Regions from separate parts of the Homo sapiens genome. Here regions 2, 3, 4, 5 and 6 are each linked to region 1. The links come from fine-mapping of genetic effects on gene expression. A gene starts in region 1. Each other region holds a variant in brackets. All regions are shown on one strand. Distances are from middle to middle. Region 1 holds the start of TBC1D7 (TBC1 domain family member 7). Region 2 overlaps PHACTR1 (phosphatase and actin regulator 1). Region 3 overlaps PHACTR1 (phosphatase and actin regulator 1). Region 4 overlaps PHACTR1 (phosphatase and actin regulator 1). Region 5 overlaps PHACTR1 (phosphatase and actin regulator 1). Region 6 overlaps PHACTR1 (phosphatase and actin regulator 1).

What was found. PIP is the estimated chance that this variant, and not a neighbour inherited with it, causes the effect.
Region 2: its variant is the best candidate, but not a certain one, in a credible set for the expression of TBC1D7 in whole blood (INTERVAL, PIP 0.74).
Region 3: its variant is the best candidate, but not a certain one, in a credible set for the expression of TBC1D7 in whole blood (TOPMed, PIP 0.57).
Region 4: its variant is the best candidate, but not a certain one, in a credible set for the expression of TBC1D7 in nasal epithelium (TOPMed, PIP 0.51).
Region 5: its variant is the best candidate, but not a certain one, in a credible set for the expression of TBC1D7 in cerebellar hemisphere (GTEx, PIP 0.60).
Region 6: its variant is the best candidate, but not a certain one, in a credible set for the expression of TBC1D7 in hippocampus (GTEx, PIP 0.62).

Annotation. Positions count from the first base shown.
Region 1 is chr6:13,326,954-13,331,257 of GRCh38, forward strand. It overlaps TBC1D7 (TBC1 domain family member 7), which reads right to left and starts at 1,584. Exons shown (of 8, transcript NM_016495.6): 1 at 1,343-1,584. It overlaps TBC1D7-LOC100130357 (TBC1D7-LOC100130357 readthrough), which reads right to left and starts at 1,584. Exons shown (of 9, transcript NM_001318809.2): 1 at 1,503-1,584. LOC124901261 (a long non-coding RNA gene) reads left to right here and starts at 1,662. Exons shown (of 2, transcript XR_007059457.1): 1 at 1,662-1,945; 2 at 2,772-2,904. RefSeq lists a silencer at 1,400-1,789 and an enhancer at 1,423-1,929.
Region 2 is chr6:13,220,277-13,225,507 of GRCh38, forward strand. All of the region lies in intron 8 of PHACTR1 (phosphatase and actin regulator 1), which reads left to right. It overlaps LOC105374933 (a long non-coding RNA gene), which reads right to left. Exons shown (of 4, transcript XR_007059456.1): 4 at 2,685-3,702. Among named protein-coding and RNA genes, the nearest start is that of TBC1D7, 110 kb to the right of the region's middle. The variant T/C (reference allele first, on the strand shown) is at 2,369.
Region 3 is chr6:13,248,599-13,253,829 of GRCh38, forward strand. All of the region lies in intron 10 of PHACTR1 (phosphatase and actin regulator 1), which reads left to right. Among named protein-coding and RNA genes, the nearest start is that of TBC1D7, 77 kb to the right of the region's middle. The variant G/A (reference allele first, on the strand shown) is at 2,531.
Region 4 is chr6:13,279,250-13,284,480 of GRCh38, forward strand. It overlaps PHACTR1 (phosphatase and actin regulator 1), which reads left to right. Exons shown (of 15, transcript NM_030948.6): 13 at 4,173-4,313. All of the region lies in intron 8 of TBC1D7-LOC100130357 (TBC1D7-LOC100130357 readthrough), which reads right to left. It overlaps LOC100130357 (a long non-coding RNA gene), which reads right to left. Exons shown (of 5, transcript NR_160971.1): 4 at 2,180-2,304; 5 at 1-1,907. Among named protein-coding and RNA genes, the nearest start is that of TBC1D7, 47 kb to the right of the region's middle. The variant TTGTC/T (reference allele first, on the strand shown) is at 2,341.
Region 5 is chr6:13,266,705-13,271,935 of GRCh38, forward strand. The region is part of intron 10 of PHACTR1 (phosphatase and actin regulator 1); the gene reads left to right. It overlaps TBC1D7-LOC100130357 (TBC1D7-LOC100130357 readthrough), which reads right to left. Exons shown (of 9, transcript NM_001318809.2): 9 at 1-1,131. Among named protein-coding and RNA genes, the nearest start is that of TBC1D7, 59 kb to the right of the region's middle. The variant T/C (reference allele first, on the strand shown) is at 2,386.
Region 6 is chr6:13,286,045-13,291,275 of GRCh38, forward strand. It overlaps PHACTR1 (phosphatase and actin regulator 1), which reads left to right. Exons shown (of 15, transcript NM_030948.6): 14 at 102-178; 15 at 1,019-1,793. The coding sequence ends at 1,034. All of the region lies in intron 8 of TBC1D7-LOC100130357 (TBC1D7-LOC100130357 readthrough), which reads right to left. All of the region lies in intron 3 of LOC100130357 (a long non-coding RNA gene), which reads right to left. Among named protein-coding and RNA genes, the nearest start is that of TBC1D7, 40 kb to the right of the region's middle. The variant G/A (reference allele first, on the strand shown) is at 2,302.

The sequences.
Region 1 (4,304 bases):
AAAAGTGAGTCTAGAAACAAAGAGTCAAGAATTAGAATAATTTTCAATGATGTTCTCCACCTTTTCAATATGATGTACCCTTGCATAGGACCCAATATTAAATTTTTCCTTTAACTCAGTTCTGCAACTATCTCACCTATGCATCTTGGCTAAAAACCAAGATATAAGTTAAAAGTTCTCTGAGCTGATAAAATAGATGGCACAAGGTTTATGCACTAGGTTTCCCACTATACCTATGAGTGCCTAGCACAATAGAACATTCTGTAGCTATTATAAATGCGCAAAGAAAAAAAATAAGTGAAATGGAAGCCAGGCAAGATACGTCAAGCAAATTATACTCAAACAGTATACACTATGATTTCATTTTTTGTTTTTTACAAATTTCATGTATTTTAAAACTTAACACTCTATTCCAAAATGTTAGCAATGGTTATCTTTAGATAGTAGGATTCTAGATGATTTTAATTTCCTTTCTTTTGCTTAGCTACTTTTTTTTAAATGGGCATTTTGTAAAATGAAAAATTAAGTTATATAAAAGTAAAAAGCCACGAGTTCCTCACTTATCTTTCTTTTAAACACAATTCTATTAAGTGTAGCTATCGAAATTCAAAACCCACAACAAATAAATCGCATTAAATTATAACTAGAAGAGGGTAAAGAATGTAGCCAATTGACAGTGATCCCAAAGTCAGAGTTGAAGACGGAAAAACGATTTAAAATCTACCGCAAGAACTCAAAAAGTTCAGTGGTCTCAAGTTCCTTCACAGTAACCTTCATAATACTGGCGGTAATTCATCCAAAAAAAGACCAAGTTAGATTTGGCGTTTCAAGAACAGAAAAGATCTGATGCATTTCCCAAAAAGCACTGCACTGCCTCACCCAAATGCTTCCAGCGTCTGTGCACAAAAGAGTAAATCTTTAGGTTTAAAAACCCTGCGACGTCCCCAGTGAGCAGGGGAGGGCTTCCTTCCTTATTGAAAAGATATCCTCTGAACCGATTCAGTCACAGGAAAGATTAGGATTCGTTTAGAAAATGAAATGCTAAAGGGCTCTGAGCTTTCGGGAGCAGATGTCTTAAAAATAAAAAAGTCAGCAGCATAAAACGCGTAATGAGTGTGGGGATTTATTTTTTTAAAGCATCCAAACAGCTGCATGACGATTTGGTCGGTCCCTGTTGTCTAAGGACACCCATTCTTAGATTGCACTACAATGACAAAGGCGTCCTCTAGGAGGAAATGCTGCAAATAATATCTCCTGCCCATGCGCGTCCACCTGATGGGAAAAGTAAAAACACCCTGGTCCAAGACCCCAGGTCCCATTCTCTCTATGATGGATGCTTCACCTCTAGTAGTGCAAACACACCCGGGTTGAGACTAAGTGGTCCGGGAGAAGCAGAGGAAGCCGTGCCCTGTGCGCTGACCGACCGCCGGGCAGGCGGGCACCGTTGGGGCCCAGGGCCAGGAGGGACGAGTCCTGCGGGAAGGAGGGAGGCGGCGGGGTACCTGGGACACCCGCGCGCGCCCAGACGGCCCGGGAGACAAAACTCAGCGCCGCTGCCGCTGCCGCTGCCGCCGCCGCCGGACGTGACATCAACTCCAGGTCGCCGGGCGGGCGCCGGGCGGGCGCATGCGCAGAGGGCGCGGGCAGGAAGCTCCACCCTCACTCCAGGAAGCTCTGGCTTCGTTTGTGAAACCCGACGGGATGAAGGGCTAGGCTCGCCTCCAGAGTAGTGTAGTTTCTCCCGCCGTGGGCACCCGGCCCCTTGCTACCCCGCAAAATCTCGCGACCATTTACTCTGGCCATCCGAAGGCGCGTGCCTGGGTTGCACTCCCGTGTCCGGCCCTCGAGGTTCTTGCCTAGGGAAGACCCGAGCCCTAGGGCCGTACTTAAGCTGCCTGCGTGCAGGACCCGGGTTTTGCTTTTGCTAATTTCCTCCCCACCCCAGGTATGTGGGAATAGATGAAGACCATCCGAATGAGAAGAAAAAAGGCAGGCAGAGGAGTGCAAGTCTGATTTAGAGCAGGCAGGCTCCCTGGGTTGGTTATTGTAGGTAACTGACTGGTTTTCTGGGCAGGTTGCTGCAGGTTGTGGATTGGAGGTCTATTTTTATATTAGATTTGGCCATTGTCTTAGTATATTCAGCCTCTCAGGTAAAACACTATAACATAGGAGAAAAATGAACGTGTTTTTTTTTTAAAAAAAGATGTGCTAAATGCAAGCTCCTAATTTGTTATTAGTAGGTCTAACAGAACAGAGTTACTCTTTAAAGTAGCTACTAACACTTACAAATGCTTTCTATTTCTGTGCTTGCCTCCCTGGTCCTCGGGCTGGCTGAGCAGCAGTGCCCAAGTAGGTTTTTAAACCGCCAGGGTTTGAGAGAAATCCCCAATGATGGGTATCGTCCCTTTGAAAGTTCAAATCTCTACCAAATAAGCCACACGGATGCCAAGCTTTGAAGGAAACTTAGGACTATCAACAGTGCAGAAGTCCAGTTATAGTGCAGACAAATGTGTGTATAATGGCTAGACAGAACTTAAAAATGAAGAAACGTGTGGTGGTTGAACTCAAACACTGATGCCCCTCCCCACTCCCTTACCACCACCATCTTTAGTTCCTCAGTACTGGGGTACTAAACCTTCCTTGGGTAGTGTTCACATGAGTAAGCAGAGTTCTTCAAGTTACCTTACACAAGTTCCATTTACTTCATCTAAACCTTGGGCCGGTCACTAACTTTTATAATTGCCTTTTCTTGTCTTTAAAATCATCACCAGGGCTGGGCACTTACTGTGTGCAGGCGCTGTTCTATGGACTCAGGATACATCAGCTACCGAAGCAAAGATCCCTAACCTTGTGAAACTGACATTCTGGTGGGAGGACAGATCCAATAAAAACTAAAATAAATAAGTCAATGATGTAGTGTGTTAAAAAGTGATCGGTGCTGGCTGGGCGCCGTGGCTCATGCCTATGATCCCAACACTTTGGGAAGCCGAGGCAGGCGGATCACCTGAGGTCAGGAGTTCGAGACCAGCCTGGCCAACATGGTGAAACCCTGTCTCTAGTAAAAATACAAAATTAGCTGGGTGTGATGGCACACACCTGTAATCCCAGCTACTCTGGAGGCTGAGGCAGGAGAATCGCTTGAACCCGGAAGGCAGAGGTTGCAGTGAGCTGAGATGGTGCCGCCGCACTCCAGCCTGGGCAACGAGAGAAATTCCATTTCAAAAAATATTAATAATAAAATAAAATCATCACCAATGGTGATTATATAGAAGGTGGGAAGGGTTAAATGAGAAAGTATGTAAAGTGCTTGGCATGGTGCCTGGCATGTGGCACAGTAGGGATATATGTGAATTGGCTGTGTCAAGATCAATTAAAAATGCAAAGATGAGTCTCTAAATCATTTTATTTGGGAAAACAGAATTGCAGTTCAGGGCATACACACAGACTGGGGTGGTCTTCAGAACAACAAAGAGATGGTTGGAGGTTTCATTAGAGAAATGTTATGTATTACCTTGAAAGATAGCTCATTGACCCTAAGCAAAGTTTTTAGGAACAGGCAAGCTCTAATTTGTGAGAGAAGGTGGTAAGTAAAACTAGTCTTAGAGTTACAGCAATTCGTTTCAGCAGCTACTGGGTGAAACTGGTCTTCAGGTTATAGCAGGTCACCTTGGCAGCTGGCTTTCAATATAATTCCTGGGCAGGCACTTTGTGCCCCAACTGCTTTCTCTTCTCCCTCATCTCTGGACTCTAATTTAGCTGGGTATGAAGATTACTCCAATTCATACAATCAATTTTCAAGACTGCTGTTCACTGAATGGTGACAGCAATATGGGTGCCTTCAACTGCCCTCCATTCTGTTTTTTGATGAGCTGATAACAGAATATGTGGAAGCTTCCCTAAGAGATAACACTTTGAGACTTTTGTCAACTCTGCAGCCAGAATGAATCTAAAAATATCCCTCTGCAAAAAATCCTTCAGTGGCTCCCCATTTCTCTCAAAGGAAAAACTGAAGTGCTCACAACAGCTTACAACACTTCTCATGGTCTACCTCCTTGTACCTCAGTCTCAGCTACTATGAGTGACTCCCCTGCCTTGGGACCTTCTCATGTTCCCTCTGCCTGAAACACATTATCCTCTGCTAGCCACATGGCCCACTCACTTACCTCAGTCTCAATCAAATGTCCCCTCCCTGAGGCTACTTTCCCCACCCTACCTAAAATTGCAACACTTTACCTGAATCCCAATCCCCTGTATGCAGTTCTACCTTTTCCTTCTTTCACAGCAATGATCCCATTTTTTTTTTT
Region 2 (5,231 bases), 110 kb before region 1:
TGCATGTTCATCCCTATTACATTTGTCAAGAAAATGACATTATTTGGTGCTACCTAGGTGATAGGGAGCAGAAATTCATCTGTTTTTCCCTTGGAAAATAATTTAAGGCCTTTGGTCTTTGTTTAAATTCATTATAGAATGTTAGTATAAGAGGAAACCATATAGATCTCATCAAGCTTAATGACGTCACCTTACAAAGCAGCCTAACTTTGGACAGTCTGAATTAAAGTGGGCTGACGGCCTGTGAGTATAGAATTGGAAACTGGAATATCATAAGCTCTCTCTGTTACCTCTTCTGTGCAGACACAGTCCTGGAATGAAGGCCACACGGTACCAATGTGCTCTTGCTTGCATAGATCTCTGTGCCTTAGCTCCTTGAGTTGTCTTCTTAGGAAAAAGACCTCTAGAGCACTATTTCCAAAAATCCTAATGCTCCTTTCACAAAGATAATTTCCCTACAACAGCAAGACTCTATCTAAGGGTCAGGGATCCTAATTTTAGCAAATTAAGTAATTGAAAATGTAATGTGGTGTATTCTGATTGTGTGTGACTTCAATTCAAATATTTGATCAACTTATCCATCAGTTCCAAACACATGTGCAATGTAGAGGTAGAGGCAGGAAGATCATCAGCCTCTGTCTTGGAGAGGCTCACAGTTAATTGGCGTGGGGGGTAAATGCTTAGCCTGTAATTATAACATAATGTGGCAGATGCTATAACAAAGCTGGGAACAGAGGCTATGGATGTGCAGAGAAGGGACTGATTTCCATTGGAAAAATCAGAAAAGGATGCTCAAATGAAATGAGATTTGAGTCATCCCTGAAAGATAGGCAGGATGCTCTCTCTAGGCCAAAATCTGAAGGGTGAGTTCTGGGGCGGAGCAACTGCAGGAGCAGAGGGAGGAGGCAGGGAAGTCCACAGGGTACTTGGGCAATGGCAAGTGGTCTGATATGGCTGGAACCCTAGGAAGATGGTAAGGAATAATAACAAATGAGATTGAAAGGAGTTGGAGGGTCAGATCGTGAGGCACCTCTTAATCCATGCTGTAGAGGGTGGAGTTGATCCAGTTTACAATGAGGCCTTTCCTGGCTCTTTTGATTAGGAGAATTACATGATCAGACCAGTTTGACAGCAGAATAGAGGGTGGACTGGGTGGGTGGGGAGGGGGAGGGTCTGGAAGAAGATTAAAGTTTGCAACCATTGGGGGACCACTACTTCTACATAGGCAGTGGTATAGTGACATCAGTAGATCAGGTCCTGTAGTCTGATGGCCTGAATTCAGTGTCTGCACCCCTCTGGTTGTGTGACCTTGGCCACGTGCCTTTGCATTTTCCCATCTAAAACGGGAAGATCACAATAGTACCTATCTCTTAGGATCCTTGTGAGGCTTAAGTGAATCAACACGTGGGACAGTGTGAGCATTTAGAAATGTTAACTTCCATCATCATCTGTAATAATCCAGTTAGAATGAACAAAGGTGGCCGGGCACGGTGGCTCACGCCTCTAATCCCAGCACTTTGGGAGGCCAAGGCAGGTGGATCACAAGGTTGGGAATTCAAGACCAGCCTGGCCAAGATGGTGAAACCCTGCCTCTACTAAAAATATAATAATTAGCCAGGTGTGGTGGTGGGCACCTGTAATCCCAGCCACCTGGGAGGCTGAGGCAGAGAATTGCTTGAATCCAGGAGGCGGAGGTTGCAGTGAGCCGAGATCACGCCACTGCACTCCAGCCTGGGTGACAGAGTGAGACTCCATCTCAAAAAAAAAAAAAGAATGAACAAAGACTCCATCTCGGAGGTTAGGATGAGATTCCTCATGTTTACCTGCGGTTTTAGAAGCTAGTTAGCCCTTAGGAAGAGGGAGGGTGAACACAACCCATGTGCAATGAAGTCCATTTGAATTTGAAGCCAACTAAATGCTTAATGCCAAAGAATGTTGATGTGAGTGATCTAGAATAGATTTTATTACACGAGTCAGCAGTTCCTGTTGATAGGTACTCTGGAAGATGTGACTCTCTCAGACCACTGAGTGTCATTCAGTAAATCACTGATCTGGGCAAAGAATGAGAAAACCTGTTTCACTCAAGCGTCAGCCTGGAGCTCTTGCATTCATGGGGTAACTAACAGCTCAGGAACTGAAGGCAGGAGTGCAAGTAACTGAGTAAGTAGAACCCCACGAGCATCAGCATCTTGTTGCAGCCCCCAGAATGCCAGCCTCACACCTGATAAGTCAGGAACTCACATGAGAGGATCTGGACAGTTCTTCATCATTCAGCGAATGCTGCAGATTCCTGATAATTAATACCTAAGTGGCTTTTGAAGAGACTCACATGGTACAGTGCTGAGAATGCAGCAAGCAGCAAAGCCAC[T/C]GTGGATGCTCTAGGCCAGTGGCTCCTAATCTGGGATGATTTTTGTCCCCCTGTCCCCCAGAGGACATTTGGCAATGTCTGAAGATTGTTTTGGCTGTCACAGTTGGAGGAAGTGCTGCTGGCATCTGGTGGGCAGAGGCCAGGGGTACTGCTAAGTGTACTACAATGCACAGGACAACCCTCAAAGCAATGAATTATCTGGCCCAAAATGTCAGTCATGCCTGTGTCGAAAAAGCCTGGTCTAGAGCAACATTTAACCAAACTGTGATATCTGCATCATTGGTGGTACAGAAAATGAGTTTAGGACAACCTTTTATTAGTTTTAATATTTTATTGAATATTGTATGTACTTATGCATATATCAATATTGAAAATATATGTATTACAAATATAAAAATATATCTTAACATGTTATAAACCTATATGATTTACATACAAAACCTGTTATTACAAAGATATCATTTGCTTAGGATGAGGTTACAATAGTGTTTAAATTTTTAAAAAATACCGTACTGACTTAAAAAATTACAAAGTAAATAATAGTGTAAATGGACTTCAAAGATGCCATACACAAAAAAGATTAAGGAGGTGGGAGTATAATCAAGGTTTAGAAAACACTGGTTCAGATCAGGGCACAGAAAATTTTTTCTTTAAGGAACCAGATAGATAGTAAATATTTTCAGCTCTATTGCAACTACTCCACTCTTCTATTTTGGTGCAAAAGCAGCCAAGGTGAATCGGTGAATAGATGGGTCTCCTGAACGCCCTGAGTATTAAACTCAGTGCCCCAGGAGTGGCCTGGTCATGGCAGGGTAGAATACTATTACCTACCCTAGTTAGTAGGACTTAAAATAGTTATAAATAATGATGCCCATTTTTTACACACGTTGTTGACAAGGTATGATATTTCCTCCATCTTGCCTGGGTACATTTAGTCAGGTGTGTGTTTTATCAAAGGACACATCTCATAAGTATCACAGTTCAACTTTTGCATGCAGAATTTGTAATACAGTAGGTTCAAATTTCAAGCCCTTCCTTTACCAACTGTGTCCTTGTGGGCCTATTCATTACCCTTTCAGAGCTTCAATTTCCTGCTTCATAAAATGGGGAGAACAGCACCTGTCCCATACGGTTGCTGGAAAGGTGAAATGCAACACTGTGTGTGAAAATTACACATTTAGTAAATGTTCTCTCTATTCACTCTCCCTTCTTTCCTTCTCTCCTTCAACTCTTTCAGTTATTCATTGAGGATGCCCTTTTTGTCATTGCCATTGATAAAGATGCTAACCAAGTCCAGAGCACCACATCCCTGCAGCACACCACTAGATGCCTCCCTGAAAATTAAAAAAAACCCCTTAGTTAATGCCTTTTGAACATGTTTTGCTGACTGCTTACAAATATATCTAAATGTCAGTCATTCCAGCCCATATTTATTTCATTCGGCTAAAGCAATAGACAATTACTGAGCATCTACTTTGTGTCAGGCACGATACTAGGCACTAAGCATAGTAATAGGAACCAGATACAAACAGAAGATGTGGCTTCTGCCCGACAAGGAGCCTACAGCCTTGGGTGGTGAAGAGAAGATAGTAAGCAAACAGATGATCATGGTTTTCACCCTTGAGGACTCTCTCCCATAAACACAGGCAAGGCACTGACTGAGACAAGTATTGAGAGAGAAATAGGAATGAATGAGGTGAAGATGGTTTGGGAACACATTCCAGGCCAAGAGCATTGAATGCATAGTTGCAGGTGATCAAGGGGTCAGTTGTTTGGAGACAGAAGTAAAGAAGTGGGAATGAGTCTGGGTTAATAATTTGGGCCAAATTATGTAGGGTGTGGCAGGCACGTGACATTATGTTTAAGCTACTGTTTGCAGGCTAATGGTTTTCACCTTCCTTTCGGAATGAGAGCCTGTATTTAGAGCAGATGTAGGTAATAACTATGTTATAAAAAAAACTCGTGCTACAGTGACTGATGTTCTGCTGGGTGTCTGTCAGCAGCAGGGCACAGGCCACGTGTCATAAGATGCTGCATTTGAGTTGATTTGGTTCTTTGCCTCAAATAGTACAGTTCATGATGCGTTAACTGAATTTTCATTTGCATCACTCCTAGAGCAGTAGTTTTGTAGACTTGAGAGGCATTCAAAGTTCTCATGGGTGAGGCTCTTAGATCCGAGTTTTAGAAAGCCGCTCCGACAGCTCTGGAGACTGGACTGAAACTGAGCCTGCTGTGAAACCACTTGGAAGGCCATGTCTGTCAATAACCAGTGAGGGTCTCATCTGAGGCCGTGTCAACAGGCGACTTCACATGCACCAGCCCTACAATTTGGCCAATGTCAAGAAGAGAGTAAGTGGCAAAACGTGGACTCAGATCTGTCTGGACTCCCCAAACTGAGGCCACATATTAACCTTCCCAGCCTCCTTTTCAGCTAACTTCTATACTCTCCTTTCTTTTCTTGCTCTCCTGTGGTTCTCCATAGTTACAAAAGGGGTGGATTTATCGGGGCATTTGTCTTCTTCTCAGGACTCTTCCTGATGCATAGTTGGCATTCAGTGGATATTTATTAATAGAATGTTTTACAATTCTTTTGGTGGATTCACCTAGCTTCATGGAAAACTACCTCCTTCAGTCTTAAGGAAAATTAGGCATTCAAGCACATGCTAGGGTTCACACATCAAGAAGATGACCTGATTGGCCCCAGAAGTCTTTAGCTGTTTCTCTAGTGCCCCAACAGGCAGTCATTGGCCACCTGACCAATCCCTATTTGACAAACCCAGTAGCATGGTACCTGGTACCTTTCAAAGTAGCCAGCTGTCCTCCATTTAATCCCATCCTATGCAAGAAGGTCTCTCGCTGCCCA
Region 3 (5,231 bases), 78 kb before region 1:
TCCTCATGTTGAGGTGATCGCAAAGCCCCAAAGTGAGAGACCCTGTTAGAGGAGATAAATCATCATTGTAAGGCCAATTAGTAGACGGGGCAATAACTCATATTGGGAGAAGCATGCCTTTAGCTGCCGTAAGTGGAGGAACTCACAGCTGCAGCCACATCCCTGCAGCTCTGATCTGACTGCAGAGCTACCAAAAATCTAATCTGCATGTGTGGGCTAAAGCACAAGCAAGGGACAGAAGACTGGAAGCCACAGCGGAGAGAAAGTTGGCATAAAAAGCACTCTGCAAACATCAAAATCGCGTGCCAACTAAGCAAAGCCAATGCATAAGCTATAATGTCTTCTAGATATTTTATTGAGAGTGATAAGGATGATGAAGAACGAGAGGAGGAGAAGTTAGGTCTTCCGTCCTCCCTTGCCAGCCACAGTTCCTAACTGTACCATTTTTAAAGGTTTGATTAACTGTTCGTGGCTTATCAGCATTATTCTTTGCAGCCTTTTGGCCATGCTCGTGTAGGGGTGCCCAAACCCCCAGGCTGTGGACTGGTATCAGTCTGTGGCCTGTTAGGAAACAGGCCCCACAGCAGGAGATGAGTGGCGGGAGTGAGCATTACTGCCTGAGCCCTGCCTCCTGCCAGATCAGTGGCGGCATTAGATTCTCAGAACTGTGCATGTGAGGGATCTCGGTTTCACGTTCCTTATGAGACTCTAACTTACGCCTGATGATCTGAGGTGGAATCACCCCAACCCCTGAAACCACCTTGCCCCCAAACCCCCATCCATAGAAAAATTGTCTTCCATGAAACCAGTCCCTGGTGCCAAAAAGGTTGGGGACAGCTGGTCTAGTGTGTTAAAGGCCCCAGAAGATTACATTTTTCTGGTCAGGGGTATGAACTACACTAAAATGTGTGGTGATTAAGCCGGGCGTGGTGGCTCATGCCTGTAATCCCAGCACTTTGGGAGGCCAAGGCAGGTGGATCACCTAAGGTCAGGAGTTCAAGACCAGCCTGGCTAACATGGTGAAACCTCATGTCTACTAAAACTACAAAAATTAGCCGGATGTGGTGGCAGGCGCCTGTAATCCCAGCTACTCAGGAGGCTGAGGCAGGAGAATCACTTGAACCTGGGAGGCGGAGGTTGCAGTGAGCCAAGATTGCACCACTGCACTCCAGCCTGGGCAACAGAGAAAACTCCGTCTCAAAAAAAAAAAAAAAAAAAAAGTATGGTGACTAAAGAATCACCTATTTCATTTTTCATTGGGAAACCAAAATAATTTCCGTCTTGTAAGTTATGACCATTTATGTGGTTCTGCTCCACTGGCTGATGCTTCAAGGAAATAGTTTTCAGACATTGGTGACACTCCATGGTAGGGGCCCACCAGTTGTGGCCCACAGACTGAACCCACCCCACTCTCTGTCTTTGTCAATAAAGCTTTATTGGAACACAGTTACACTCATTCATTTACCTGCTCTCTGTGGCTGCTTACACACCATAATGGCAGAGTTGAGTAGCTGCAACAGAAACTGTATGGCCCACAAACCCAAAGTATTTACTATCTGGCCCTTTGAAGAAAAAAGAAATGAGACATTTAAGGACCTAGACTGAGGACATTAGAGAATGTGGCCTTCCTCTCACAGTGCTGATCCTAGATCTATTTAGAAAGTGCATGTGCCCGAAATATCTCCATTAGAGAAAGAAACTAAATTCATCCTCACACACATAGGGATTTCCTTTGTGCTCATTACTCTAATCATCAAAATAATCCCATTTACCTTTACTTCTTAGTCCAGATCCGCCTGTGAAGCATCATATAGCATACAGATTATGCTGGGAATACGGTCCAGTTTTTCAAACTTGATTTATTACCTGAGCAGTTAGAAAAGCTACTTCAAGGACAACCAGGTATCATTGAAAGCAGCTCAGCTCAGCTGCCGGCCAGATAAGAAGGGGCTGGCTGTGCAGACAGACTGAGAGAAGGAATCTGTGTAAGCAGAAAATGTATGTTGTCCTTAAGAAAGGAAGGCCACAGCCATGCCATGCAGGCTTAGCTTGAAAATAAATATCAGCAGGTGTGAGAAGTATGTTCCTGTTTTTGCAGCTGAAGCTAGATTCCAAGTCCTGCAGGAAAAGGTGGGGGCTGGAAGGAGGGTCGCCAACGAGTAAGAGCCAGATACTAAAACATGACTCCTTGGGCGCAAGACAGGTCTGGGCGCAAGACAGGTCTATCCTCAAGACAGGTGGTGCACAAATGGAGTGTTACACAGATAGGAAGAGATGTGGCAAGAGCTCTGGCAAATTGCAAAACCGTGGAATATGCTTGGGATGTGTGTAACACTGTGGTGAAGAGAGGCTGACAAATCCTCTACATGACACTTATTGTATGAAGAAAACATATCCATTTTACACACACACACACACACAATCAATCTTCTGATCAGTGAAAGGAGCTACTGACAGTGGTCCCTGTGCATCGTCCACATGCCTCTCCCATGAGTGGCAGCCACCTGAGAAGGGCAGCTTTCAGGGCCCC[G/A]AGTGGCTGTGTGTCCCTGTCTGCTGTGGGTAGGATTCTGCCTGCCAGGCACACTCAGCCTCCCAGTGACCTCTTGTTAGAGACACATCGGGTGGGATGCTGGCCATAGGCGGGCGCTCTCCTAGAAGGGGGAGATGGCTCCTGTGACTGAGGGGAACGTTACACAATCAGTCGTTCCCTCAGGATGGAGGCAGGTGTTTATCTTCACTGCAGGAGTTGGTTTGTCTGGTGCTCCCTGAGAGGGACATTACGGTCACGGGTGCAGGGCTGCAAATAGGATCTGTCCAGGTTCTCACCGGCCTCCAGCTGGGGCATTTCAGCATCAAGAAACTGCCTGCCCATGTGCTGGGGGCGCTGTGGTCTCTGATGTCTGTCTGGCCTCATATAGGGGAGGGTGGGGATGTATTCATGGTGCATGTGTGTGTTGAGTGTATTTGATGTGACCGGAATGTGAGAAAATAAAACAAAAAACCATAAGGAAGGGAAGAGAACACGGACTAATGTGTGCCAGGCTGAGCTCTGACAGTCCTATGGCAGATACCAGCTCTAAATTCAGCCTCTCTTTGAGTCTCCTATTTGAAAGCAGTTATCTGCGCTCTCAAGGGCTCTCTCTCAAGCCATTGAGTAGATTAGCTGAAGAATTAGTGAAAAATCATTTAAATTTATATATATAATAAGGGGATTGAGAGGCTGAGGCAGGAGGATTGCTTGAGGCCAGGAGTTCAAGACCAGCCTGAGCAACATAGCAAGATCCCCATCTCTACAAAAATTTAAAAATTAGCTGGGCATGGTGGCACACACCTATAGTCCCAGCTACTGGGGAGGCTGAAGTGGGAGGATCACTTGAGCTCAGCAGTTTGAGGCTACAGTGAGCTGTGATTGCACCACTGTACTCCAGCCTGAACAACAGAACAAGATCCTGCCTTAAAAAAAAAAAAAAGAAAGAAAGAAAGAAAAGGCCAGGAGGCACGGTGACTTATGCCCATAATCCCAGCACTTTGGGAGGCTGAGGTGGGCAGATCGCCTGAGCCCAGGGCAGATCGCTTAGACCAGCCTGAGCAACATGGCAAACCCCTGCCTTTACAAAAAAAAAAAAATAGAAAAAAAAAATTAGCCAGGTGCCTGGGAGTCAGAGGTTGCAGTGAATCAAGATCGTGCCACTGCAGTCCAGCCTGAGCAACGGAGCAAGATCCTGTCTCAAAAAAAAAAAAAAAAGAAAAAGGAAAGAAAGAAAAGAAAAAAGTCTAAAAAAGAAAAGGATAAAGTCTATTTGAAACTTCCATTTGACTCTCCATTTTCCATTCTTTTCCTTCTTTCCGTTTCCCATATAAATAGATCCTTTCCTGGATAAATAACTCATTCCATTATTTCCATTATTAAAATTCCATCTATCCTGATCTCATTATAATTAACCAATTTTCAAAGAATGCAAAAATACAAATCTACACTGGTTAGACATTCTTAAAATCTGCCATGCTGCTGTTATTAAAAAAAAAAAAAGTTTTGGGGGAGAGGAGAGGGGTCTCTTTGTTGTTGTGTCACATCTGCAGAAAAATGTATTTTGTGAAAGAGTATCGGCCGCAGGAAAACACTTAGAGATTAATGAGAGTATCTATATTCATACCATTCCTTTGGGCTACAAGGCTATTGGCTTAAAAATGAAGCTTTATGTTTAAATTTATGGACCATGGGTCAGGAAAGGTAGGGAAAATGAGACTTTTATTAAAGGAGAATTATAGAAAACTTAGCAAAATATTGCAGCCAAAACCCCCCTCCACTTGAGCATCTGAGATTCCTTGGGGTTTTTGTGTTTTCGTTTCCAGGTTTCTAAATAGCATGAGATCTCATCTGAACTTGAGTTGTTATTGTTTCCAGAAACAAGTTCAGAAGAGACTTTGGGAGACAGCTGGAAGGAAAATAGCTGTGGCCCCACTGAATGAGGAGGGAAAGGATCGGGATTCCTGCCACCCGTCTCCTGGCTTCTTCCCCACCCTCTATCCTCAGCCCTCTCCTTGGGAAGTATGATCGCCCCAAAATGAGAGATTGGCCCTTTGCGGGTGACATTTAAAACACATGAGCTGCACATGTTCTGTAGCTCCTAGGAGGAATCCACGTGTTGCAGTCAGAGAAAGACATGGAAGGAGGCACCTTGTTGCCTATTTTTAACGTTTCATCCCTTGCTTACCTTTGAAAAATGATTGGTGGGTGCATGTGTTGTTTATTGAGGCCCAACTAAGCACAGGCATTGGAGAAATCTAGAACCATGGTACTTTGTGAATAAATGAATGAATGATGACATTTTTCTGTTGTCTGGGCTGTGCATATCAACCTAACCACAATATTGCCTGTGACAGTCCCTCTCTATAGCAAACACCAGAACTTCCTCTCTTTATTTGATCACTCTTTGTCCTTGCCCCACAGTTCTGTAATCATCAGAAGCAACACTGCTTAGAGAAGTAAGGACAATAAGTACAGTGATACCTAGGGTAAGCCTTCAGTTAAGAAAAGGAAATCTGGATGTCCACCACCATCTGAATCTCAGCAAAAGACCTGCTTTAGACTCAGCAGAGCCTAAGCATGCCCACAGTGGTGGGCATGTTCGGTGGGTGTATCCTGGGTCCACCAGCAGTCTCCTTTCCTGCGGGAGGTCAGCTGCATGGACGTGGACATCTGTGCCTCCACATTGGGCAGTGGCAGTGAT
Region 4 (5,231 bases), 47 kb before region 1:
ATGAGTGTCCTCTTTAATAATAAACGCATTGTTAAGGCTATTCTTGGATGATGCTGAAAAGTTTAATTAATTGATGACATGCAAGATACAATACTCCCTTCTGTCTGACGAAGTCAAAGTGTTTTTAATCAGCCTCCTACAGTGACCATCTTGAGAGAAAGATACTCTCATATCTTAGCTACAGTTAAGAGGCCCATTAATATTAATTTTAAAAAGGTTTATTAGTGGATTTTTCTCTCCAGAAATATCACACAAAGGAAGAAATTCAGAGATCCTGAAATATCATACCAATTATTAAGGTGATGGTTTGTATTTCTCCACACTTTCCCTGCGAGCATCCCAAATACCTGGTGACAAGCCAAATGCCAACCCAATTAGCAAGAGCTGGACAAACAAGTGCCTGAATGGCCAGACGACTGGCTGGGGTCACCCTGGTGGAGACTAGAGCAAGAGCTAAGTGACTTCACCAGCCAGTCGCTGTCCCACCCGTCAAGGTTGGACCCTTTACATCCTTAAGCCCACCCACTCTTTGGATGCAGGGTGCAGTTTTTCCTGAGCTTGAGTAGTGAGAAGAGCAGGAGAGATGCATTAGCTTTTTCTCATCGTGTCCTTGAAATGACTGGGGCTCGAAAAAGACACTGTGATAAACTTTCATTTCTGATACAGAAAGGTCTAGACACTTAGAAAAAAAAAAAGTTGTTTAAATCAGATTTTCATCAAATTTTTCAGAATTGGTTGCTGGATCCCCAAAATTCACCCAGTTTTAAGGTTGCTTGCTAAAAGACGGTCACAGAGAAATACTTAGACATTTATTTAATTCCTATCTCTTAACAAAGTTGATATGATTTTGCGGAGAACTTGACTAACTGCATGATTTGGTAATGAGCGAGTAAAGAGTCTTCCTTTCCACACCCATCTCCCTAGGGTAGGTGACACTAGGGATGGGGACCCCAAATAGTTCATAGGTTTTGCGGGTCTCCACAATCAAATAATTGCCTCTCTGTTCCTGCTCACCTCTCCTTTCTTCTCCCAGGGAAATGGCCTTGGAATTTTAGCATTTGCCCTCCCCTGGGACTGGCTGGGGGGGTTAGAAATAAGGAGCTTGAGAGGGGATAACTGCTTCTAAGAGAGAGACTGGAGAACAGAGGGGCAACTTCCATATCTGCTTTTGCGGGCAGAGATGTGGCGCCTTCCGGCAGGTAGGGAACCTACATCATCACTTCCTGGCCCTGTGAAGGTTCTTCTCCTCTTGAGCATTTATCACACTGAGACCAGATGCCAGTGATGGGGGCTGCTTTACAGTGATCTGCCTTCAGCCCAATAACTTCTTCAATAAAATTCTATTTAACTGTAATGCACTAGTAAGAAAAATAAAAAATAAAGCGTAGTAACTGAGGCTGATAGCAACAGACCAGTCATTTTCTCTGACCAAACTGAGACTAATATAAAAATTACATGCTTTGTCTTTTTAAAAAAGACATGCCTGCGGCCAGGCGCAGTGGCTCACGCCTGTAATCCCAGCACTTTGGGAGGCCGAGGCGGGCCTGACTTTGGCTGCAAAGATTATTTTTGCAGCATTCAAGGAAGGACTTCAGGTTCCAGATGCCCCGAAGGCTACAGCCAGCACCAGGCCAAAGGTGCGTCTTCTGAGCCTTTCGTGGTCAGGGACATGAGCCCATGCACACAGAGGAGCGTCCTGGTGGCCGTTTGTTAGTGCTGGGGTCCGTGCACCAACTGTGACTCTGAGAGGCAGCAGCCAGCTGCATCCTCGCTCATTCCCTCTGAGCACTTGTGCTCTATGCTGTCTTGATTTGGAAAGACGGTGTCCAAGGCCCCGCGATGTTCAGGCATAAGAAACAGCCCCTGACCTGCAGCATTTATGCTTAGTCTTCGGTTCACTCCAGACTCTGCCATAGATAGGACATTAGTAAAATCCAGGTCAGTTTCCAGGAAGAGAAATTTGAAAGTCAGGGCTTAACAACTTTTCTCACATCATGGGTGCACTCAGAAAATAACCCTTTGGGCCGGGCTCGGTGGCTCATATCTGTAATCCCAGCACTTTGGGAGGCTGAGAACGGCGGATCATTTGAGATCAGGAGTTCGAGAGCAGTCTGGGCAATATGGCGAAACCCTATCTCTATTAAAAATACAAAAATTAGCCGGACAAGGTGGCGCATACCTGTAATCCCAGCTACTCGGGAGGCTGAGGCAGGAGAGTTACTTGCACCCAAGAGGCGGAGGTTGCAGTGAGCCGAGATCATTGCACCATTGAACTCCAGCCTGGGCAACAGAGTGAGACTCCGTCTAAAAAAAGAAAAATGAAGAAAAGAAAATAACACT[TTGTC/T]TGGCCCCTTGAGGTAAACCCAGCAAGTCCTGAGGAACACAGACAGGATTCTGAGTAGGAGTCTGTTTATCTGGAGTAAATATGGCAAATGTTGCATGTCTTTATGTATTTTAATTATAGCACAAAATCTCCCTGCACTCACATTGTGGAGAACATGTTTTGGAGTCAGGATGACTGCTGTTTTTGTTTACGGTGACCACAGCCATAACAGCCTGGGAAGCCTGTGGGTTCCCGCGACAGGCCCACACTGGTGCCAGAATGTTGTCGTGCCTAAGAAAGCCAAGGGAGGCCTACATGCAGTCTAGGCAGGGGGGCCGGCACCAGAGGCGGCTGAGCCCCTGATCCCCAGAGCTTCCTGCCTTTGGCTGAGAGGGAGCTGTAGGCCTGCCTTGGCCCTGTCCGGGGTGTGCCACCACTCTATTTGATACCTGCCAGCCATCCTCTAATTGTGCTCTGCCAGCGTGGGAGCAAGTTGGAACATTCTCGCACTAGCCACGGGTGTCTGGAAGCTGCCTGTTGCAGAGTCGAAACTGCCAGGGTGGTTTGGACTCCATTGTGTTTGTTTTACGGGCCTGAGTTGCAAGATTCTATGAGATAGTGTCTTCTAGTAATAGAATTACACAGAGTCTAGGGCTCAAAGGGAAAACTGCTTTTAAATAGCATTGATTGAACATCATTTGACAGCATCTTAAAGAGAGCAACTGTGTTGCTCCAGGAGAAATAAACCTGGTGACAGGAAGAGATAATAGAAATGTCAGCCTTATGTTGCTAAAGTAGAGGAAGGGTCTTCATGGCTAATATCGGGAGATGGCAAAATACATACGAATCTTCCTTTTACTTGCTTCATCCCTCATTCCTGCAGTCCTTCATCATGCACCATCCAAAGGGCTGGTCCTGAGTCTCCCTTGGCATAAATGTGGCCTTTTTCTGTACTTACTCAACTCCGCATTTGTTGACTGACCTTCCCCTTGAACTTCTTGCAGAGGGCCGTCAGCAATGTTTGGGCTGACCTCTTCAGCCAGCAGATTCCCATCCCTGCATACCCCAGAGTTTGCATACCATTTGCACATACGCTTTTTTGCATCTAAAACCCACACAAAATGCACTGCAAAACCCCCTTGCAGAAAGCACTCGATGTGACACAGATGTGGATTCACAAATCCAAAATAAGACAGAATCATTGTAGAATGTCCCTGTCACCTGGTGGGAGTAGGACAGATAAGAAGAAATCCACAACAGGCGCCCACAGCCAAACAGAAAGACAAGCTTCTAGTAATGACTGGGACTCAGCAATGTTATGAAGATAGAGACTGTTTACTATCGATTTGTATAGGTGTAAAAACAGTACTGTGAATATGCTTTGAAGTCCTAATCTTTATATATTCTATACTGAAATATACACAGATAAAATGATATGATGCCTGTGATTTGTTTCAAAGCAATCTACATGTGGATGTAGTCAAGAGTTGATTATTGTTGAAGCTGGTGATAATACACCAAATTCATTACATTAGTCTCCTTCCTTGTTTTGAAAATTTACATAATAAAAGATTTTTTTTAAGTTTAAAAAAAAAAAGAGCTTGGCCTAGAGGGTATGTAAGGGATAACAAAGCTCTCTCTTAGGACCTAGAAACGTCCCACTCCCAAGAGTCAGGAGACTTGGGTCCCCCCACCCTGGCCCTCCCCCTGCCCCTGCCCCTCACTCACTATGCGATGCATCCATCGCCTCACTGAACCTTATTTTCCACACCTGCAAGTTCACAGACAGGACCAAGTGCCATGGTCAACCCTTCTGGCTGACTGGGTCCATCTCTCTCCCTCCCTGCAGCTCAGTCAAAGGCCCACGGTGGAAGAGCTTCGGGAAAGAAAGATCCTCATCCGCTTCAGTGACTACGTGGAGGTGGCTGACGCTCAGGACTATGACCGCAGGGCAGATAAGCCGTGGACCCGCCTCACCGCTGCAGACAAAGTAAGCAGAGGGGAGTGCTGGAGAGTGGGAGGCAGGACCGTCTGCTGGGTCTCGCTGGGCTCACCGCTGGGGAGCGTGTAGGGAGACCTGCAGCCAGGCCTCAGCCGCAGTCCCCATAATGGAGTGTTGAGACCCCAACACCTTTCCCCAGGGGCCACAGATAATCTGCGGAAAGGCTGCTGAATCGGAGAAAACACAAGGCACATAATACTGTGCCCATTTTACAGGAGGAGGAGCAGCAGCCTGGGAGGCTGTGCCCAGAGAAAGAGAATAGCACTGGATAGGTGTAGACAGGTGAAGGCAAGAGGCTCCAGGCTCATCACAGCCCTTCCGTATAGGGGATGGTGCTGCCGGCATCCAACGAGGGATTCACCAAACCAAAAGAGAAGACAAAGTAGACGCATAACCCCAGGAGGGAAATAGGGCATAAATCAAAGAGACGTCGCAAAACATATCTCACTGCACTAGCCCCTCGCCGATTTAGAAAACAAAAAGAATAATCTGAGGTTCAGTTTGTTTTTTAGGAAAAGCAGTGATGCCAATGAGAAATCATTTTCTCTGTCCACCAGACAAGGTATCAGAATGAACCTCTGTTTGGTAATCCTCTCTGATTCTAGTCTGGTCACCATGAGGAGCTGGAGGGTTAAGGGCCTTTTTAAAAATGTAGTCTGTGCGCCAGGCACAGTGGCTCACGCCTGTAATCCCAGCACTTTGGGAGGCCGAGGCGGGTAGATCACTTGAGGTCAGGAGTTCAAGACCAGCCTGACCAACATGATGAAACCCCATCTCTACTAAAAATACAAAATTAGCCGGGCGTGATGGCACACACCTGTAATCCCAGCTGCTCGGGAGGCTGAGGCAGGAGAATTGCTTGAACCCAGGAGGTGGAGGTTGCAGTGATCCAAGGTCACACCATTG
Region 5 (5,231 bases), 60 kb before region 1:
TGCTACACACTTTTAAACAACCAGATCTCGCGAGAATGCACTCAACTCACTAGAACAGCACCAAGTGGTTGGTACTAAACCGTTCATGAAAAACTACCCCCATGATCCAATCATGTCCCACCAGGCTCCACCTCCAACACTGGGGACTACAATTCAACATGTGATTGGCAGGGACACAGATCCAAATCACACCCACGGCATCTGGCCCCTGCCCTCCTTCCCACCAATCTTCTCTCCTTACTCTCTGCCCAGAAGGAGCATCCTTCTTCCATCCCTGAGCTCTGGGCACAGTGTCACTTCCTCCTGGAAGCCTTTCCTGACCTCCTGATTTGGTCAGATCCAGAGATCCCTGCACCAAGTGCCTCACCATGGAAGCCCTTACTCCAGCTACATTTTGCACTCATTTCTGTGACTGTTTGATTAATGGCTACCCCCATCCTCTTCCAGTCTTCTCTGTTCCAGAAGGGCAGGGACTGGTTTTGCTCATCACTGTACTCTGGTACCTAATGTAGAACCTGACACAGCACTGGCACTAATAAGTAACTTGCTAAATGAATGAATGGGTTTACATTTGAATGTAACTGAGTCTGTGGCACCCATTTCTAAAACAGGTCTTGATAGGAATGAGATAGAGCAAGAGTGATAACATAATTCTAGGAACTCGAGAGGGGAGGACTCCAGGGAATAGAGTCAATGCAGAACCACAGACACTTTATCTTCTTCACAGTTTTGCCTTGTGCCCAGTGAGCCCCACTTCCATGTGGCTGCTGAATGGTTTTTTTCTGACTCACCTCTTGCTGGCCAACTGAGATGCTGCAAGAATGTACAGTGCCTTCTACATGGGCAGTGAAAGTCTAAGTCACGCCCAACTTGCTTGTTGTTTTGAGGATATTTTATTACATGCCAGTCCTTGGAAACTGTTGATCCAGTTTTACCTTGCACATTGTAATCACAGATGTGCACCTCTAGGCTGTGAGCCGCTTAAGAATGTGTCTGGCCCTTCATGTGGCCCGTGGTTCATGTTGGGTAGATTAGCAGATGAAAGACTTAGGAAAACAAAAATTGGAATTCTTATCATTTGATCTCAGCCAGCGTCTCAAACTCAGAGGCCCTCGGGGGTCCAGGAATGATCTGAAAAAAAAAAAAAAAAAAAAAAAAAAAAAAAAAAGCAGGACAGATGTGAGCGTGCTCACCTGTATTACATAAGTGAGGCCTGGGGAGAGGGCTAATTTGATCACACACTCTGTCTAAAGGCATTCAGGCTCAAAAAAAGTATAACCAGCTGGGCTCAGTGGCTCACACCTGTAATCTCAGCACTCTGGGAGGCCGAGGTGGGTGGATCACCTGAGGTCAGGAGTTTGAGACTAGCCTGGCCAACGTGGTGAAACCGCATGTCTACTAAAAATACAAAAATTAGCTGGGCGTGGTGGCACACACCTGTAATCCCAGCTACTCGGGAAGCTGAGGCAGGAGAATCGCTTGAACCTGGGAGGTGGAGGTTGCAGTGAGCTGAGATTGTGCCACTGCACTCCAGCGTGGGTGACAGGGCAAGACTCTGTCTCAAAAAAGAGAAAAAAGTGTAACCTCTGAGCATGCCAAAGAGAACTGATAGAGTCAAATCCAGTGCACCAGGCATCAGTTTGCAACCTCTGACTAGTAAAGTATCATAGTTATGGCAGACAAAATATTGGCCACCCTTCCACAAGATGTCCACATCCTCATCCCCAGATCTATGAATATGTAACGTCCCAGGGCAAAGGAGACTTTGCAACTGGAATTCAGTTAAAAATCTTAAGATAAAGATTAAATGAACTAACATATGTACAGTGCTTGGAACCATACCCTTACATTATAGGCATTAAATCAGCCTTAGCTTATTAAACTAGTATTTATGATTTGCAGAGAAAAGAGCATAGGCCTAGCAGGATCTGATACCTTGTCTGAGGTAAATAGGTTCAGAGCAGAGCCTGGACTAGAACCCAAACCTCCTAGCTCCTGAGCTACTTAGTGCTTTGTCCTTACAATGCCACCATATCATTTTCCTCCCAAATCTCATTTTCAAGGTCAAAACAACTAACTATAGCACAGGCCCTTCTGGCGGGCTCAGCTGCATGTTATAGCTATGATTAGTCTTGATGTTCTCAGTCGCTTTCCAGAGAAATGAAACACAAACAGAGGAACTCATTTGAAATTATGAGTGTTTGACTATAAAGCAGCCTAGTTAATAACAGAATTTTCTCTGATCAGAGTCTAGTCACTCAGTTTTGCCCCCTCCAAATATGACCACCCATAAAAAAAAGGGGAGGCCACCACAGAGCCAGTTGTCATGTTCACTAATGAGATCAATGGGATGGCACCGTCAAAGCTGATGAGGGAACAATGTAG[T/C]CTGCAGACACTTCGCATAAGACTCCAAAACACTGGCCTGATCTCCAAATGTAGGCGCCACCCACATTTACAAGGCTTTCTCAAAACATTCTGCCCCCAAAACTTAGCTTGACTTAAAGCCTGGGTATTACCAAACCATTCCATAAAAGTGGCTGCGCATCTCTTATAAAAGCAGCAAGTATTTTTAGGGAAAATAAACTGGCAGGTGAGAAAGAGCTGTTAAGATCTTTCAACGTGGAGTTGGTAAGCTGCATTCCAGACCTCTGACACCGGCTCACTCAGTTGCATAATCATCGCTTTCCTCCTGCAGCGTGAGAATGCTATTTTAGAAAGAATTCAAAGACTACTGCATCCAAATTTAGACCCCCTAATATTGTGAATTTCCAAATACACAGCTGGCCCTTGTCAATGGGGATGAAAAATGTCTTAATGGGATTGCAAAGAGAAAAAACAAACTTTGACTGGGAGCAGTGGCTCATGCCTGTAATCCCAGCACTTTGGGAGGCTGAAGCAGGTGGATCACCTAAGGTCAGGAGTTCAAGACCAGCCTGGCCAACATGGTGAAACCCTGTCTCTACTGAAAATACAAAAAACTAGCACGGGGCATGGTGGCACGCACCTGTAATCCCAGCTACTCAGGAGGCTGAGGCAGGAGAATCGCTTGAACCCGAGAGGCAGAGGTTGCAGTGAGCTGAGATCGCACCACTGCACTCCAGCCTGGGCAAAAAAAGCTAAACTCTGTCTCAAAAAAAGAAAAAAACAAACTTTTTTTCACTCTACTCTCACACTTAACACACTTCTGTGACCCCACACATTTCTGTGTGAGGCAGCTCCCCACACACCAAGCAATTCTCCAGCAGACATGAACTGGACATCCTGTAATTCAATTTGATTCTGACCCTTTCTACTGGGACAGTGTCAGATCACACAGGTTAAGGACTCAGTCCCACAGAACTGCCCCCACTTCAGATGCCAATACCAAGTCATAGGTTGTCACCTATATTATGACCCACTAGCTGTAAACTGGGGTTCTCACAACTCCCTCTTTGTGTTCAAATAATTTGCTAAGACAGCTCACAGAACTCAGGGAAACACTTACTTTACCAGTTTCTTACAGAGGTTACAGATGAACAGCCAGATGAAGAGATGGACAGGGCAAGGTATTGGGGGAGAGAGGCAGAGCTTCTGTGCACTCTCTGGGTGCCACCCTCCCAACAGTGCCCCCCAGCCCCATGGTCAGCAACCTGGAAGCTCATCTAATCTTGTGGTTTAAGAGTTTCCATAGAACTTCACCTCCAGCCCCCCACCCTCCTGCTTCCCAGCTGAAAGCTCCAGGCCTCTAACTATGTGTTCTTTCTGGTGGCCAGCCCCATCCTAAGTCACCTAATTAGCACAAACTCTGGTGTAATCCAAAGGGACTCATTCCAAGTAACAAAATACACTCCTGACACCCCAGAAATTCCAGGGGTTTTAGGTGCTCTGTGATAGGAACTGGGTCAAAGATAAATATGTTTTATATTATACCACAGGGATATTTTGAAAAGGAATAATAAATATGAAAATGTTCTTATACTCTTAAAAACACTTTGGAATGCAATTTCCAACAGTTTCAGGGTGCTATAGGCTTTATAAGCAGGTATATGACCAAAAATCCTTTCTCTGACATTGTATTAGGCCATTCTTGCATTACTATAAAGGAATACCTGAGACTGTGTAATTTATAAATAAAAGAGGTTTAATTGGCTCATGGTTCTGCAGGCTATACAGGCAGCATGGCCCTGGCATTTGCTTGACTTCTAGGGAGGCCTCAGGAAACTTCCAATCATGGAGGAAGGTGAAGGAGAAGAAGGCACATCACATGGCAAAAGCAGGAGCAAGAGAGAGAGAGAGAGTGAGCAGGGAGTTGCCACATGCTTTTTTTTTTTCTTTTTTTTTTTTTGAGACAGTCTCACTTTGTCACCCAGGCTGGAGTGCAGTGGCGCAATGTCGGCTCACTGCAACCTCCACCTCCCAGGTTCAAGCGATTCTCCTGCCTCAGCCTCCCAAGTAGCTAGGATTACAGGCATGTGCCACCATGCCCGGCTAATTTTTGTATTTTTAATAGAGACGGGGTTTCGCCACAAAGTTTTAAATGACCAGATCTTGCAAGAACTCACTGTCAAGAAGCTAGGACCAAGCCATGAGGGCTCCCCATCCAAGCACCTTGCACCAGGCCTCCCCCCGAGCAATGGGGATTACCATTCAACATGAGATTTGGGCAGCGACAAATATCCAAACTATATGAGACATTGAAGCCCATTCCCTATATAGGATGTGTGGTGGTGACACGGGAATGTCACAGAAGCAATTGATTCTGGCCCAGCACAATAAACAAAAACACAAATGACAACAAGCTTTGAATTAAAAATATAGTCCTTTCTGGGAGATTGATTCCAGGACTCCCTTGGATACCAAAATCCAAGGAAGCTCAAGTCCCTTGTATAAAATGGCGTAGTATTTGCAAAAAACTATGTGTATCCTCCCATATCCTTTAAATCATCTCTAAATTACTTATATCTAATACAAGATAAATGCTATATCAATAATTTTAGACTATTGTTTTTTGTTTGTTTTTTTTTTTAATATTTTCCGTCAGCAGTTGGTAGAACCGAAGAATGTGGAACTCATGGACACAGAGGACCAACTGTAGTTAGGTTTGGAGACTTCATTGACTTGATATTTTCACTCTAGGATCTCTCTTTAGATTTCAAGATGTGAACATCTTGCCGACTATAGACACCAGTTTCTAATACCCAAGGAGGGACTGCAACTTCCTCAACTAGGAGAGCATCATTTCTACCCCTTAG
Region 6 (5,231 bases), 40 kb before region 1:
CTTTGTTGAAGAAGAAAAATATGTTGTTAGGAATGAACTGAAAGGGGAGTTTTTTTCTGTCTCTCTCCCATTGCACATTGATGGGCTTCTGTTGATTCCAGGCTGCCATCCGAAAGGAGCTCAATGAATTCAAAAGCACTGAGATGGAAGTTCATGAATTGAGTAGACACTTAACAAGGTTAGTATTAAGGGTTTTTTTTTTCCTTTTTTTCCCTCAAGTTGCAATATTTATCTCCAAATAAAGCTCTCCCACTTGTGGGACATGAGTGGGTTGGAGGGTGCCATGAGAGGGAAGATAGTAGGAAGGCAGGCATGCGGTTCCACTTTAGGTTACTGAAACGAGGAAGTGGAACACAGATGGCCCGGGCTAAAACCAACTTTCTGCAAAGTCTGAGTTTCACTCATTTAAACTAAAGGTCTGATAAGCACCAGACTACCAACGACCCCAAGGTGGGTTTTTGTGAAAACTTAGGTCAAGGAGAAAAGATTGTTGCCAATTTGCAACCAGTCAGCAGAGGCCAAACCTGAACAAAATACCACATCCACACGGGACTTCCAAAGTGGACCACTTCTGTTATTCCCTGACATTCTCCCTGACAGTCCAGCATCATGATGATATTTGGGAAAACCGAGGCATGGAGTGATTAAGAGGATTATATAAGGTTGCATTGCTAGTTAGCAACAGAGCCATTGATTTAATTCTGACTTTCTTTTGGGGGGAACATTTAGAGAAATAGGATATAGCAAGTATTTAGTCTAGAGACTCAGAGACACAGATTGGGTTCTGCACCTTGCTGCTGGATCCAGGCTGATGGCAGGAGGTGGAGGCCACCAGGGCTGCCCCAGATGAAACTTTCAAAGCCAGGTGTGTGTTCAGTGGTACTCCTGTGGGGATGACGGTGGGAAGCTCGCACCTCCCTCTCACGGTCAAGAACCTCCCTGAAGATGGGAGATTGGACTGTTGAATCCTGCACCTTTGGCAGCCCCTTGGTCTTGATGTAATTGTTTGTTTCCTTAGGTTTCACCGACCTTAACAGTCGAATTCCTCTTGAGTGCTATGCTGTCTTCAAAACATAAATTTATAAGAACCATAAGTGCTGGTATTTATTCACTTCCCCATTACGATGTAAATCTTCTGAACTGCCTTTTTTTTAAAAAGAAGAAAAATCAAGGAAACACAATCAGGATTTTATGTGTGAAAACGCAAAAGTGATGGCTCGGCGGTCCGAGCTGCTGGTCCCACTTCTGACACCAAAATGCATCCCAACCCCCGGCAGTGCCAAGGGCACCAGCAGGGCCCTGACTGAAGACTGTCTGGCAGGTGGAACGGTCCTTGTCCTCTCCAGCCAGGCCCAGCAGGCACTACCTTCATGAAGTCTCCAGCAAACCTCTTCCTCACAAGTGTCTGTCATCTGAGTCCAAAGAAAGCTGAAGGGGTGGGTTTGTTTTGGGGGTACTGTGCAAAGCTAATGATCTGGTTGGACTTCTACACTTGGCCAAATGTACTGGCTCCAGACATGACATTTGGTTTGGGGGCCCTTTGAAGTTGATGCCAAGAAGGAGTGAACACTTCTCAGTTGCCCCTGGCTTTTCCCTCCTTTCAGCCACCACCCACACAATGAACAAAAGGGAAGGGCCCATTTCTGGGGGAGTCTGGCTGCCTCTTGGCTACGAAGGCTGGCACTGAGCACCCATCCTGCTCCCTCTGCCTGAGCTGAGCTGCCTTTCAGGAAGCTCTGGTTTAGAAGGGGAAAGATGTCATATGCTCAGTTCAAATAATCAACCCAACTGTGTCCAGAGTGTCCAGTGTCATGAGTGACCCACGCACACACACAGCCATTGCTAAGGTACTCCTGTGCTGTTTATAAGTCTGAGTGGGAGGACCCTATTGAATCCTGTGGGGTCAGAAACTGCTTGGCTGACATTTATTTTCTCTGTGCGCCTTGAAGCTGATTATATGGCTTGGGAGTTCTTAGCTTCTGTGTATAGGACCAGTGCATGCAGGCCAGAAACCACTCCTGTAGGACTGGCTTTCCAGCCACTGAGGGACTTGGAACCACTCCATGGCCTTCTCTTTTTTTTTTTTTTTTTTTTTTTTTTTTTTTTTTTTGCACTGAAGAGTTTCTGTGAAGGAGCCCCAGAGTTGGGCATGTGCCAGAATCAGGCCAACACCAGCCACACCTGTCCACAGTGCCCCTTCCTGCTCCAGTTGATCCAGAGAGCTCCTCCCTCTACCCTCATGATGCCAGGGAGCGTGACTGTGGGTGTGTCTCTGACTGGGACACCCAGGATAGGGTGTGC[G/A]ATGAGGCCAGGACCCTCCTAAACCCTAACAGCATCCTAACGAGGCCCATTGCAGCTTTCGATTTCCTTCATAACAGAGCTCGCAGGCCCTCAGTTGCAGAGCTCTCTCACCTTCTGGAGTGACTCCATCGTTACTCCAGTCTTTCTAGGTGGTGGAACTCTCCACCACACATGCCATTTAGAAAGACGCCAGCTTGGCCTTTCCAAAAAGTTAACCAGTCGTCTCCCCACCACAAACCCTGTGGGAGCAGGTTACTCTTAGGATGCACACCCGTCAACGAGGCCATTGCATTTTTTTGCAGGCATGAACGGCTCCCATCTAGGCACTAACCCAGGAGCCAAACAACTGCTGGGGAGAGTTCAGGGCAGCTCTTTGGGCGGTGCCTCCAGCTGCAGCTTTGCCTTGCCACCTGGAGCCAGCACGCCTCTGCCCGACCCAAGGAGGATGCCATCACTAGATCCTATTTTTTTTTTTTTTTTTTAACTCTTGAATCTGAATAGTTCCTGCCGTGGGGAGAGGTATTGTTCAGGGAAAATGTGATCGGGATTTTAGTGTGGCTGTAAACACAGTCTTCCCGAAAGGCTTACTGACGTTTGAATGTGCAAATGGTATGACGAAAGATGTAGGGCTCTTTCGTTGAACTTCTCTACGGCGGGCGGGCGGACACGTGTTCCAGGTGGACTTGCCTGCCGGCCAGGCTTTGAGTCTGAACTTCCTCTAACTGCAGCTGGGCTCCTGGCACACGCGGTGCCCTGGCATGATGGTCCTCCCTGGCCAGGAGCGAGTCCTAAGGAAATTCATTCCATTGACCGGACTCCTCCCATGATAGGCCCATGGCTTCTCTGCTGGCCTTAGTTCTTGGCCCTTCAGATTCCCTGGGGATATAAGGCCCAAGCGGATCTCCCTGCAGCCAGCCAGCAGACAGCCCAGGGTTTCCGCCCAAAGTGCCCTCATGTTGCAGTCCACTTTGTGCATGGAAGATATTGAACACAATTTCCACTGCTCTTCCTGCAGGGCCTCCTTTCCAGCAGTCACTTGCTCAGACTGAGGGGTGCACCTCCCCTGCCATTGACAGGTCCTGCGCCTTCAGGATGGGCTATTTCAAGCCCGTTTTAAGTGGCTCTTACACAGGCTCAGCAACCTCTGTGGCCTGCAGGATGGGCCTTCTGCTGTCTCTTTCCTTTCTTAAAACCTTAAGGTCTTTCTAGAGACCTATTCAATTTTCTTTTTTTTTTTTTTTCACTACAATGTCATGACAACTGCAGCAATTTGTGTTACTTTCCAAGATGACAATTTGACATTAATTAAGGGAAAAAATAAAAAGGTGAGCTAGATGACTTAAAATGCATCTCTTTTTTGAAAAAGCTGTAGCTGGCAAGTCAAAGTTTATTTTATGTGTGTAAATTCCCAGTTGAGCATTTTTTTCATTTGGATTAGCGTGAGAGGAAAAATGTGAAATGTCTCAAATCAAATGCTTCCTTCTAAAGATTAGACATTGCCCAACCCTGCCCCCGCCCCCAATCAATCAGTGACAGAAGAGACCGCCATCAGCCAACTAGCTTTTTTTAAATGGCTGATATATTCATCTCTAAAGGCCCTCAAAGCACTGTAAAACTTTTAAAACTTTAGCCTTTATGTCAGATTAGAGAAACCAAACAATGTGACGGTACATGTGATGAAAAGCTCTGGGTTTATTTTTCTCCCGCTTATGAACATGTATTTTTATTTGCCGAATGAAAATCGTGGTGTGTTGCTTTGATGAATGGAATTTCAGGCTCTCCCTGTGCACAGCCGGTGGGCAAAGGTCACCTTAAATGACTTTTTCTCCCTATCTGTCTGTTAATCCCCAGACCGGTTGCATTTTCCAGTTGCTTCCTGGGTGTCTGTACATAGTTTGTCTTTGTATAGGAGTGAGTGTGGTGACCGTCAATCCCCTAATCTCCCAGGTTCTAATTTAACAGATGATGGCTGTATGAGGAAAACGATGTAAATAGAGAATACAAATTAAACTGGATCTCTGTGGCCTAGGTTTTGTACATACAGAAACTGCATGGTATTTAAATTATTGTTTGTCTCTGATGATGTATGCAGTTTCTTTAAAAACAAACCAAAAAAAAGTAAAAAAAAAAAAAAAAAAATTCTTGACTCTTGTGTGTTTTGTTATCAACCAGCAGCAGAAACCACCAAAAATGCTTTGACTGGGAAAGGGAGGTTGCAGGAATGGGAGAGGTCAGCTCATCTGCAAAATACATAGTGAGAGTGAGTGGACATACGGGACAACCGCATGTCTCCTCTGGTATTATTGGGGGAAGGAAGTATTGTAGCACATACATTAACTTTCTAGAAGACTTTTGTGTACTAGGATTTTTTTCCTCAACTTTTTTTTTTTTTTGAGACTGAGTCTTGCTCCGTCGCCAGGCTGGAGTGCAGTGGCGCAATCCTGGCTCACTGCAACCTCCGCCTCCTGGGTTCAAGAGATTCTCCTGCCTCAGCCTCCCAAGTAGCTGGTATTACAGGCACGCGCCACCATGCCTGGCTAATTTTTGTATTTTTAGTAGAGATGGGGTTTCACCATGTTTGTCAGGATGGTCTTGGTCTTGACCTCATTATCCGCCCACCTCAGCCTCCCAAAGTGCTGGGATCACAGGCGTGAGCCACTGCGTCCGGCCTTCCTCAACATTTTTATAAGAATATCTAAAATGTCAACTGTCCTTTTAACGATCTGGGAAGGCTGGAGATCTTGGCTCACTGCAACCTCCGCCTCCCTGGTTCAAGTGATTCTACTGCCTCAGCCTCCCGGGTAGCTGTGACTAGAGGTGTGCACCACCACACCTGGCTATTTTTTTTTTTTTTTTTTTTGCATTTTATTTTTAGTAGAAACAGGGTTTCACCATGTTGGCCAGGCTGGTCTCAAACTCCTGGCCTCAGG